Homo sapiens: one gene and its partner. The protein of the gene in region 1 purifies or fractionates together with the protein of each later gene. This does not show direct contact. Each region holds a gene or a part of one and is shown in the gene's direction. Other genes may lie near its edges.

The links. The genes of interacting proteins can lie anywhere in the genome.
Region 2: the proteins of DAZL (region 1) and ELAVL3 purify together in Homo sapiens (affinity purification with mass spectrometry; one large-scale study listed by BioGRID and IntAct). This does not show direct contact.

What each region holds. Positions count from the first base shown.
Region 1 is NC_000003.12:16,587,461-16,592,873, reverse strand, and holds part of DAZL (deleted in azoospermia-like), read left to right. Parts: intron 1-725; coding exon 726-824; intron 825-4,160; coding exon 4,161-4,214; 3' UTR 4,215-5,413. UniProt on the Homo sapiens protein: RNA-binding protein, which is essential for gametogenesis in both males and females. Plays a central role during spermatogenesis.
Region 2 is NC_000019.10:11,460,547-11,464,046, reverse strand, and holds part of ELAVL3 (ELAV-like protein 3), read left to right. Parts: intron 1-3,500. UniProt on the Homo sapiens protein: RNA-binding protein that binds to AU-rich element (ARE) sequences of target mRNAs, including VEGF mRNA. May also bind poly-A tracts via RRM 3. May be involved in neuronal differentiation and maintenance.

The sequences.
Region 1 (5,413 bases):
GTTGATGTGTTGGTAATATGTATAACACTGAAGTCCCATTGGAGTGTAAATTCCTTGATTTGATACTCGATTTTAAAATGCGAATAAATATTAAAATAGCTTACAGTGTAATTTTCAGGTTTTGTCCTGAATATTTTTTCTTGAAACATTGGAGTTCACTTAGGGATTTAACAAATTCAGCTTTTTAAACCAGTATTCTATCACTAAGGTTCTAAAATCTTTGTCAGAAAACTTGCATATTGAGTGATACGTGGTAAGAATTATGAATCACATTTTTATGAATTTCTTTTTTTTTTTTTTTCCCCAAGACAGAGTCTCGCTGTGTTGCCCAGGCTGGAGTGCAGTGGTGTGATCTTGGCTCACTGCAATTTCCACCTCCTGGATTCAAGCAATTCTCCCTGCCTCAGCCTCCTGAGTAGCTGAGATTACAGGCACCCGCCACTATGCCCAGCTGATATTTGTATTTTTTTAGTAGAGATGGGGTTTCACCATATTGGCCAGGCTGGTCTTGAATTCCTGACCTCAGGAGGAGGCAGGAATCCTCCTGCCTTGGCCTCCTAAAGTGCTGGGATTACAGGCGTGAGCCACCACTCCCAGTCTCTTTTAGCATTTTTTGCATTTCTTTAGAAATAAAGTAATATATTCATTAAACTATCAAAAAAAAACCCTTACTAAGAGTGAGTGAAAGAGTCGTCTTTACATTACTGAAAACTTCTGTGTTTCAGAAATCTGTGGACCGAAGCATACAAACGGTGGTATCTTGTCTGTTTAATCCAGAGAACAGACTGAGAAACTCTGTTGTTACTCAAGATGACTACTTCAAGGTATGAATATAACAGTTACGCACAATTAAAAAGCACACTTGTTAGCTTTAAAGTATCTGTTTTCCTTGTGGTATATGTATTTTGAGATTTCTTAGAGCATTTAATTAACTGTTGGCATTTGACTATAACACAGTAAACCAGAGTGGGTTTTACCTGGCAGTATATTTTCTGCTGCTGAACCTTGACATAATGTAGTTATCTTTAGGGAAGAATCCTTCAGCAGAAATTTGTAATTGAAAGGGTTAACTAGAGAAGAGTTAGTTGACTGGCTTGACCAAATAGTAAAAGAAAATTTTAGATACAGAAAGCAGATCTTGGCTGGGTGCAGTGGCTCACGCCTGTAATCCCAGCACTTTTGGGGGCTGAGATGGGTGGATTGCTTGAGCTCAGGAGTTCGAGACCACCCTGGGCAACATGGCAAAACCCCATCTCTACAAAAAATACAAAACTTAGCCAGTTGTGATGGTGCACGCCTGTAGTCCCAGCTACTTCAGAGGGAGGCTGAGGTAGGAGGATTGCTTGAGCCTGGGAAGTTGAGTCTGCATTGAGCCATGATTGTGCCACTGTACTCCAGCCTGGGCAACAGAGTGAGACCTTGTCTCAAAAAAAAAAAAAATACATGCATATTGGACTATAGAGAAGAAAAGAAATGGTTTACTCAGAAGATATACCTGAACAGTGTGAAGGGAGAAAAGGGGTAAAGTGAAGCAGTAAAATGTTGAGTAGAAAGAATTGGAGGTTGATTCAGACAGAGTTGGTAAAGTGGAAGAGAATGTGGGTAGTTGAATTCCAGAAAAATCTGATTTCTGATCCCGCCGTCTATCCATGTTGGATAGATAAATCTTATTAAGACTCCAGTTTTTACAAGTCTAAAATGAGAAGGTACAGGACTAAAGGTTTCTGGGTCCCTGTAGTTCTAAGTCTATGAATAGGAAAAAGAACTAACTTGGTCAGTCCAATGGGAGAGAAATATTACGGTTAGTAAAGGGAAGGTGTTTTTTAAATAATAGGTTTATTGAAATATATAATTGAGATACCAGTAATACAATTTACCTATTTAAAGTTTGCATTTCACTGGTTTTTCATATATTCAAAGTTGTGTAACCATGACCACAATCAATTTTAGAATACTTAAATCACCCCAAAAATCACCCCCCTACCTTAGCAGTCACCTGCTATTTTCCCCCATCCTGTGCAGCCCTAGGCAACCACTAATTTACTTACTTTCTCTAAGGATTTTCCTGTCCTGGACATTTCATGTATATGGAATCATACATAATGTGGCCTTTTGTGACCGGTTTTTTCAGTCAGCATAATATTTTCAAGGTTCATCAATATTCTAGCACGTATCAGAACTTCATTTCTTTTTATTTGTGGCTATTATTCATTCTGTTTATCCATTCATCTGTTAAAGACATTGGGATTATTTCCTCTTTTTAACTGTTAGAAATAATGCTGTGAACATTCATGTACAAGTTATTACGTGGACATATGTTCTTATTTCTCTTGCGTATATACTTGGGAATGGAATTGCTAAGTCATATTTAACCTTCAGTGGAACTGCCAGAATTTGTCAAAACTGGCTACACACTTTACATTCAAAAGGAAATGTTTAACCATCACTTTGTGTCTTAAAACAGAAAGACTAGCTTTTTTTTCATCTGTGAATGGATATAGGATGAAGCTTAAGCCTTTTTAAGGGGTTATTATTATGGATCTCCTGTATAATGTAGAAGAGTAGAGCCGTATAGCAGAATTAAGTTCTTAACATCTTCGCAACAGGGAGTAAACATACTTAAAGTTGACATTTGTTCTCTTGTTGCTTCATTCTACATAGATAGTATAATTTAGAAAAGAAGGAACTGAAATTGTATATCAGCTTACTTTGCCCAAAGTTCTGATGATTACATAGGTGTCTACAGTAGTACTTAAATGATTTTCAAAGCAGAAGATAGTCTTCTGTGGTTTTTTGTTTTTTTGAGGTGACCTCATTTAGTCACCTAGGCTGGATTGCAGTGTAACAATCACAGCTTACTACAACCTCAAACTCCTGACGCAAGGGATCCTTCTGCCTCAGCCTCCCAAATAGTTAGGACTACAGACATGCACCGCTACACTTGGCTAGTTAAAAAGATTTTTTTTTTTTTTTTAAGAGACAGAATCTTACTATATTGCCCCTGGCTGGTCTTGAACTCCTGGGCTCAAGTGATCCTCCTACCTCAGCCTCCCAAAGTGCTGGGATTACAGGCGTGAGCCACCATGCCCAGCCCAGAAGGAGTTTTGAAACTTGAGTTCTCACCTGGTATTAGACAAAAGACTCCCTTTAAACTCCCAGAGTTTTCTGCTTGTTTGGGAGACGAATCAGAAGTTGGCATCCTGTGGTTGTCTGACATCTAGACCTATTTTGATTGACTGCATGTTGTTGTATTGAATTTGAATGCATGAGGTATTTTTGAATGTATTTACTATTTCCATAGCTAATTCCACTCTTCACTGTCTTGATTCTGTAGTCCCTTCATAATCTTGTTTCCTGCGTGACCTGTGAAGATACATGTTGGTGACCAGTTTTCTAGATTTTAACTTAAATAGGATATCACTCTTTTGACAGATTAGGTAACTTCCAGAAGCCACTTTTATTTATATGACAGTGAAACTGAGGTCCTAGGAAAAGGGCACAGTTAACTTTGTAGAAAATAAAATGCTATTATGTTATTACTCATTTGCTTAGTCCCATTTCTCCTTTTAAGGCCTCTCACTTTTTTCTCTCTGCACATCTGTAGGCAACATAGAGTGAAAAGAAAGTTTTGCATGTATTTAAATTTTTTCTCTTTCTTTCTAAAGAATAATACATCTTCACAGGTTAATGATATGTCTTTAAATGCCAAAACTTACATCTTTTAACCTAAAAACATGAAATTTCAGATTGGAGAGCTGTTCACAAGCCGTGGTTCCTATTAGATGCAGTTCAGTCAGTGAAAACAGTATTTTTTAGAATTACATTTTCTACCAGCTGTCTTTGGGACATTACTGCAAAATCATTAATTAAGAAGTACATAAAATGATATTGAGTCTAAGTCCTGTTATTTCTGAGTTTAATGGGATTTCTTTTTTTTTAATTGATTTCTTTTTTAACTAAACTGTTTAATAAAACTAGCCATCCTGGTATATATGTTATCCCAGTGTTCAAGAATGCTTCTCAAAAAGAATAATCTTTTTTCTCATTATTTATAATGTTTAAACCCAAAACAAATGGTTTAAGTTTTTGACAACTTTCAGATCTATAGTAGTAATCAGAAATTTTCAGTAAAGTAAAAGGACTCTTTCTGTCTTTTCCAGGATAAAAGAGTGCATCACTTTAGAAGAAGTCGGGCAATGCTTAAATCTGTTTGATCCTCCTGGCTTATCTAGTTACATGGGAAGTTGCTGGTTTTGAATATTAAGCTAAAAGGTTTCCACTATTATAGAAATTCTGAATTTTGGTAAATCACACTCAAACTTTGTGTATAAGTTGTATTATTAGACTCTCTAGTTTTATCTTAAACTGTTCTTCATTAGATGTTTATTTAGAAACTGGTTCTGTGTTGAAATATAGTTGAAAGTAAAAAAATAATTGAGACTGAAAGAAACTAAGATTTATCTGCAAGGATTTTTTAAAAATTGGCATTTTAAGTGTTTAAAAGCAAATACTGATTTTCAAAAAAATGTTTTTAAAAACCTATTTTGAAAGGTCAGAATTTTGTTGGTCTGAATACAAACATTTCACTTCTCCAACAAGTACCTGTGAACAGTACAGTATTTACAGTATTGAGCTTTGCATTTATGATTTCTCCAGAAATTTACCACAAAAGCAAAATTTTTAAAACTGCATTTTTAATCAGTGGAACTCAATATATAGTTAGCTTTATTGAAGTCTTCTTATCTAAACCCAGCAAAACAGATTCAAAGCGAACAGTCCAATCAGTGGGTCATATGTTTATTCAAAATATTTTATCTTTTAGCTAGAATCCACACATATATATCCTATTTGATTAGGGTAGTAATTAGGATAACTAAAATTCTGGGCCTAATTTTTTAAAGAATCCAAGACAAACTAAACTTTACTAGGTACATAAGCTTCTCAATGAGTCACCATTCTTCTTTTTTGTAAAAACTTTTTTCTTTGAAATGCTAAACTTGGCTGTATGTCAAATTGTGCAAAATATTGGTATTAAAGAATGCTGCAACTTTTTTATGTCTCTTAGAGGTTAATCAGAGTATCTGAAGGGAATTGTTTTTATAAAAACATTGAAATATTAGTTACTTGCTATAAATAGATTTAGTCTGTTATATTTCCTTTTGTAAAGTAAAATATGTCCAGAAGAGTCAAAGTAGTTAGTTTTGGTTATTTCTAAACCACAAAAGTTGTTTAATAAGTATATCTTAAGAATGTGCTAGAGTTAAAAGTTAGCATTGTTTCTAGATTAGCTGGTGTCTTCATTTTACATTGTGACAAACAGCTAGAGCATCAGAGCCCTTTTGCTATACCACAGTCTTTCGTTTCCAGCCTTTGTCACTAGTCTTTGAGGAGGTTTGCTCCTAGAACTGGTGAT
Region 2 (3,500 bases), on another chromosome or scaffold:
AGACTTCGGGTATATCCCTATGTGTCTGTAGGATAAGGTTTTTTTTTTTTGGTTTTTTGATTTTTTGGGGTTTTTTTTGAGACAGAGTCTCCCTCTCTTGCCCAGGCTGGATTGCAATGGCGCGATCTCGGCCCACTGCAACCTCCGCCTCCCAGGCTCAAGCGATTCTCCTGCCTCAGCCTCCCGAGTAGCTGGGATTACAGGCACCCGCCACCACACCTGGCTAATTTTGTATTTTTAGTAAAGACAGGGTTTCTCCATGTTGGTCAGGATGGTCTTGAACTCCTGACCTCGTGATCCACCCACCTCAGCCTCCCAAAGTGCTGGGATTACAAGTGTGAGCCACCGCACCCGGCCCAGGATGACGTGCTTATTATTTGACAGGTGCATGTGACACTGTGACTCCGGCTGTGACCTGATGGGGCCTCAGGGATGCGTCTGGCTCTGGCAGGATGTTTGTGTGTCACCGCGATGTTGTGTGGGTGTGTCTACCTGTGCCCTGCTCTGAGGGATTGAGTGTGATATCGTGTGTTTGTGCTGCGCTGTGATGGGTATGTGGTTCTACGACCTTCACTGTAATTCTCTGAGACTCCCTCCTGAACGTTGCTGAGAATGTGACAGTGGCCTGTGTCACCCTCTGGCTGGTTTCATCTCTGAGGCTGTGCAGCGGGGCGGCACTGCATGGCCTTCTGTCTGTCCCTGGGTGTTTTTGCCTGTGTGACGGTGTTGCGCGGTCAGTCAGGACTGGGCGCTATGGCAGCTGCCCAAAATATCTCCAGCTGCCTGCCGCGGGCCAGGCCCCATCCCAGGGTGGGGTGTGGGTGGAGTTTGGTCCATCCTTGCCCTTGGGAAACCCATGTCATGGAGGGATGGAAAAGGCCTGTGAAAACCTCCTCTGTGTCTCAGACGGTGTTGGACCTCCAATATCCACCCAGGATCTTACCCCCAAATCTAATCCCTCAACCCAAATCTGATTCATCAGCAAGTACCCTCACAGCTCCTAGCCCCATGGGAGAGAAAAAAAGAAGAGAAAACTGTCAAATACATTGACATGATTTCTTTCTTTCTTTTTTTTTTTTTTTTTTGAGACGGAGTCTCACTCTGTCACCCAGGCTGGAATGCAGTAGCGCGATCTCGGCTCACTGCAACCTCTGCCTCCCAGGTTCAAGCAATTCTCCTGCCTCAGCCTCCCGTGTAGCTGGGACTACAGGCGCCAGCCACCATGCACGGCTAATCTTTGTATTTTTTTTAGTAGAGACGGGGTTTCAGCATGTTGGTCAGGCTGGTCTCGAACTCCCAACCTCAGATCATCCACCCCCCTCAAGCCTCCCAAAGTGCTGGGATTACAGGCGTGAGCCACCGTGCCCAGCATGGACATGATTTATTTCTTAATTAATTTATTTATTTTTCTGAGATGGAATCTTGCTCTGTTACCCAGGCCGGATTACAGTGGTGCGCTCTCGGCTCACTGCAATTCCGCCTCTCAGGTTCAAGTGATTCTCCTGCCTCAGCCTCCTGAGTAGCTGGGATTACAGGCGCCCGCCACCACGCCCGGCTAATTTTTGCATTTTTAGTAGAGACGGGGTTTCACCATGTTGGCCAGGGTGGTCTCCTACTCCTGACCTCAAGTGATCTGCCCACCTCGGCCTCCCAAAGTGCTGGGATTACAGGCGTGAGCCACCGTGCCTGGCCTGGCTGTGATTTTAAAAATCATTATTATGGACATGACAATGGCTGATGTGATTTTTTTTTCTGGAGAACCCCAGGTGCACAAAATTATATTAATCAGACCCTGCCCCCCATTCACTCTCAAACTGCTTTATCTATTTTGTTCATTTTTAAACTAGTTATTTCTTTTTTTTTTTTTTTTTTGAGACGGAGTCTCGCTCTGTTGCCCAGGCTGGAGTGCAGTGGCGCGATCTCGGCTCACTGCAAGCTCCGCCTCCTGGGTTTACGCCATTCTCCTGCCTCAGCCTCCCGAGTAGCTGGGATTACAGGCACCCGCCACCACGCCTGGCTAATTTTTTGTATTTTTAGTAGAGATGGGGTTTCACCATGTTAGCTAGGATGGTCTTGATCTCCTGACCTTGTGATCCGCCTGCCTCAGCCTCGCAAAATGCTGGGATTACAGGCGTGCGCCACCGCGCCCAGCTTTAATTAGTTATTTCTAATGGAGGCATACACTCTCACAACTCACTGTCTCAACTCACTGTCCCAAACAAAAGCCAGAAGACAATGACCCCTATCTATCAAGAGGTTAATTAGAAGAAACAGAAAATAGAGGCTGGGCACAAAGGCTCACACCTGTAGTCCCAGCACTTTGGGAGGCCGAGGGTGGGAGGATTGCTGGAGCCCGGGGGGGTCAAGGCTGTGGTGAACCATGATTGCATCACTGTACTCCAGCCTGGGCAACACAGCAAGACCCCATCTCAAAACAAACCCACAAACAAAAACCTCACTTAACAAGAAAAAGAAAGAGGAAAGGAAGGAAGGGAAGGAGGGAGGGAGGAAAGAGGGAGGGAGGGAGAGTGGAAGGAAAGAAGGAAGGAATGAAGGAAGGAAGGAAGGGAGGGAGGGAGGGAGGGAGGGAGGAAAAATAGATACAGCAGACATAAGGGGGAGAATTGCTGATGACCACGCCCCAGCCTCTTCCCCAGTCCCTGGTGACAGGTCACCCACTGAGCATTTGAGAGGTGGACTTCCCTACCATGCTTCCAGGACATTGATAAACACACAATGAAACAAGGTCACACAATATTCCCTGCTTTGTAAATAGACTTTTCTGTCCCCCATTTTACAATACTCACCAGTCACCACCGTTTCTGGGAAATAAATATATATGTCCATCTTTTTCTCTTTTTTTTTTTAGAGACAGGGTCTTGCTCTGTAGCCCAGGCTGGAGTGCAGTGGTGTGATCATAGCTCACTGCAGCCTTTAACTCCTGGGTTCAAGTGATCCTCCAGCCTCAGTCTCCCGAGTAGCTGGGACCACAGGTGTGCACCACCACACCCAGCTAATTTTTTTTTTTTTTTTTTTTGTAGAGGTTGTGGCGGTGGAGGACGGGGGTGAGTCTTGCTGTATTGTCCAGGCTGGTCTCAAACTCCTGGGCTCCCTTGATCCTCCTGCCTTGAACTTCCAGAGCACTGGGATTACAGCCATGAGCCACTGCACCTGACCCACCATTTTTTTAAACACCTGCAGAGAGTTTCGTTGTTGGGTTGGACTATAATTAATAATGTGATTCAGATAACAGTGCTAAAATGTGTCTAATTCCTAGTTAGGAGAAGTGCTTTGAGAAAGAGTAATAGGGGTGGTGGGGGGAGGACAAATTTAGATGAGAGAGGACAGGGAGGATGTTTCAACTGAGACCCAAAGAAAGAAGAGGAGGAAGAGCATTCCAGGCAGAGAGAACAGGCAATGCCAGGGCCCTGAGGCTGAGACATGCCTGGTGTGTTTGGGAAAAATGGGGGAAGTTCAAGTTGCTGGAACACAGTAATTGG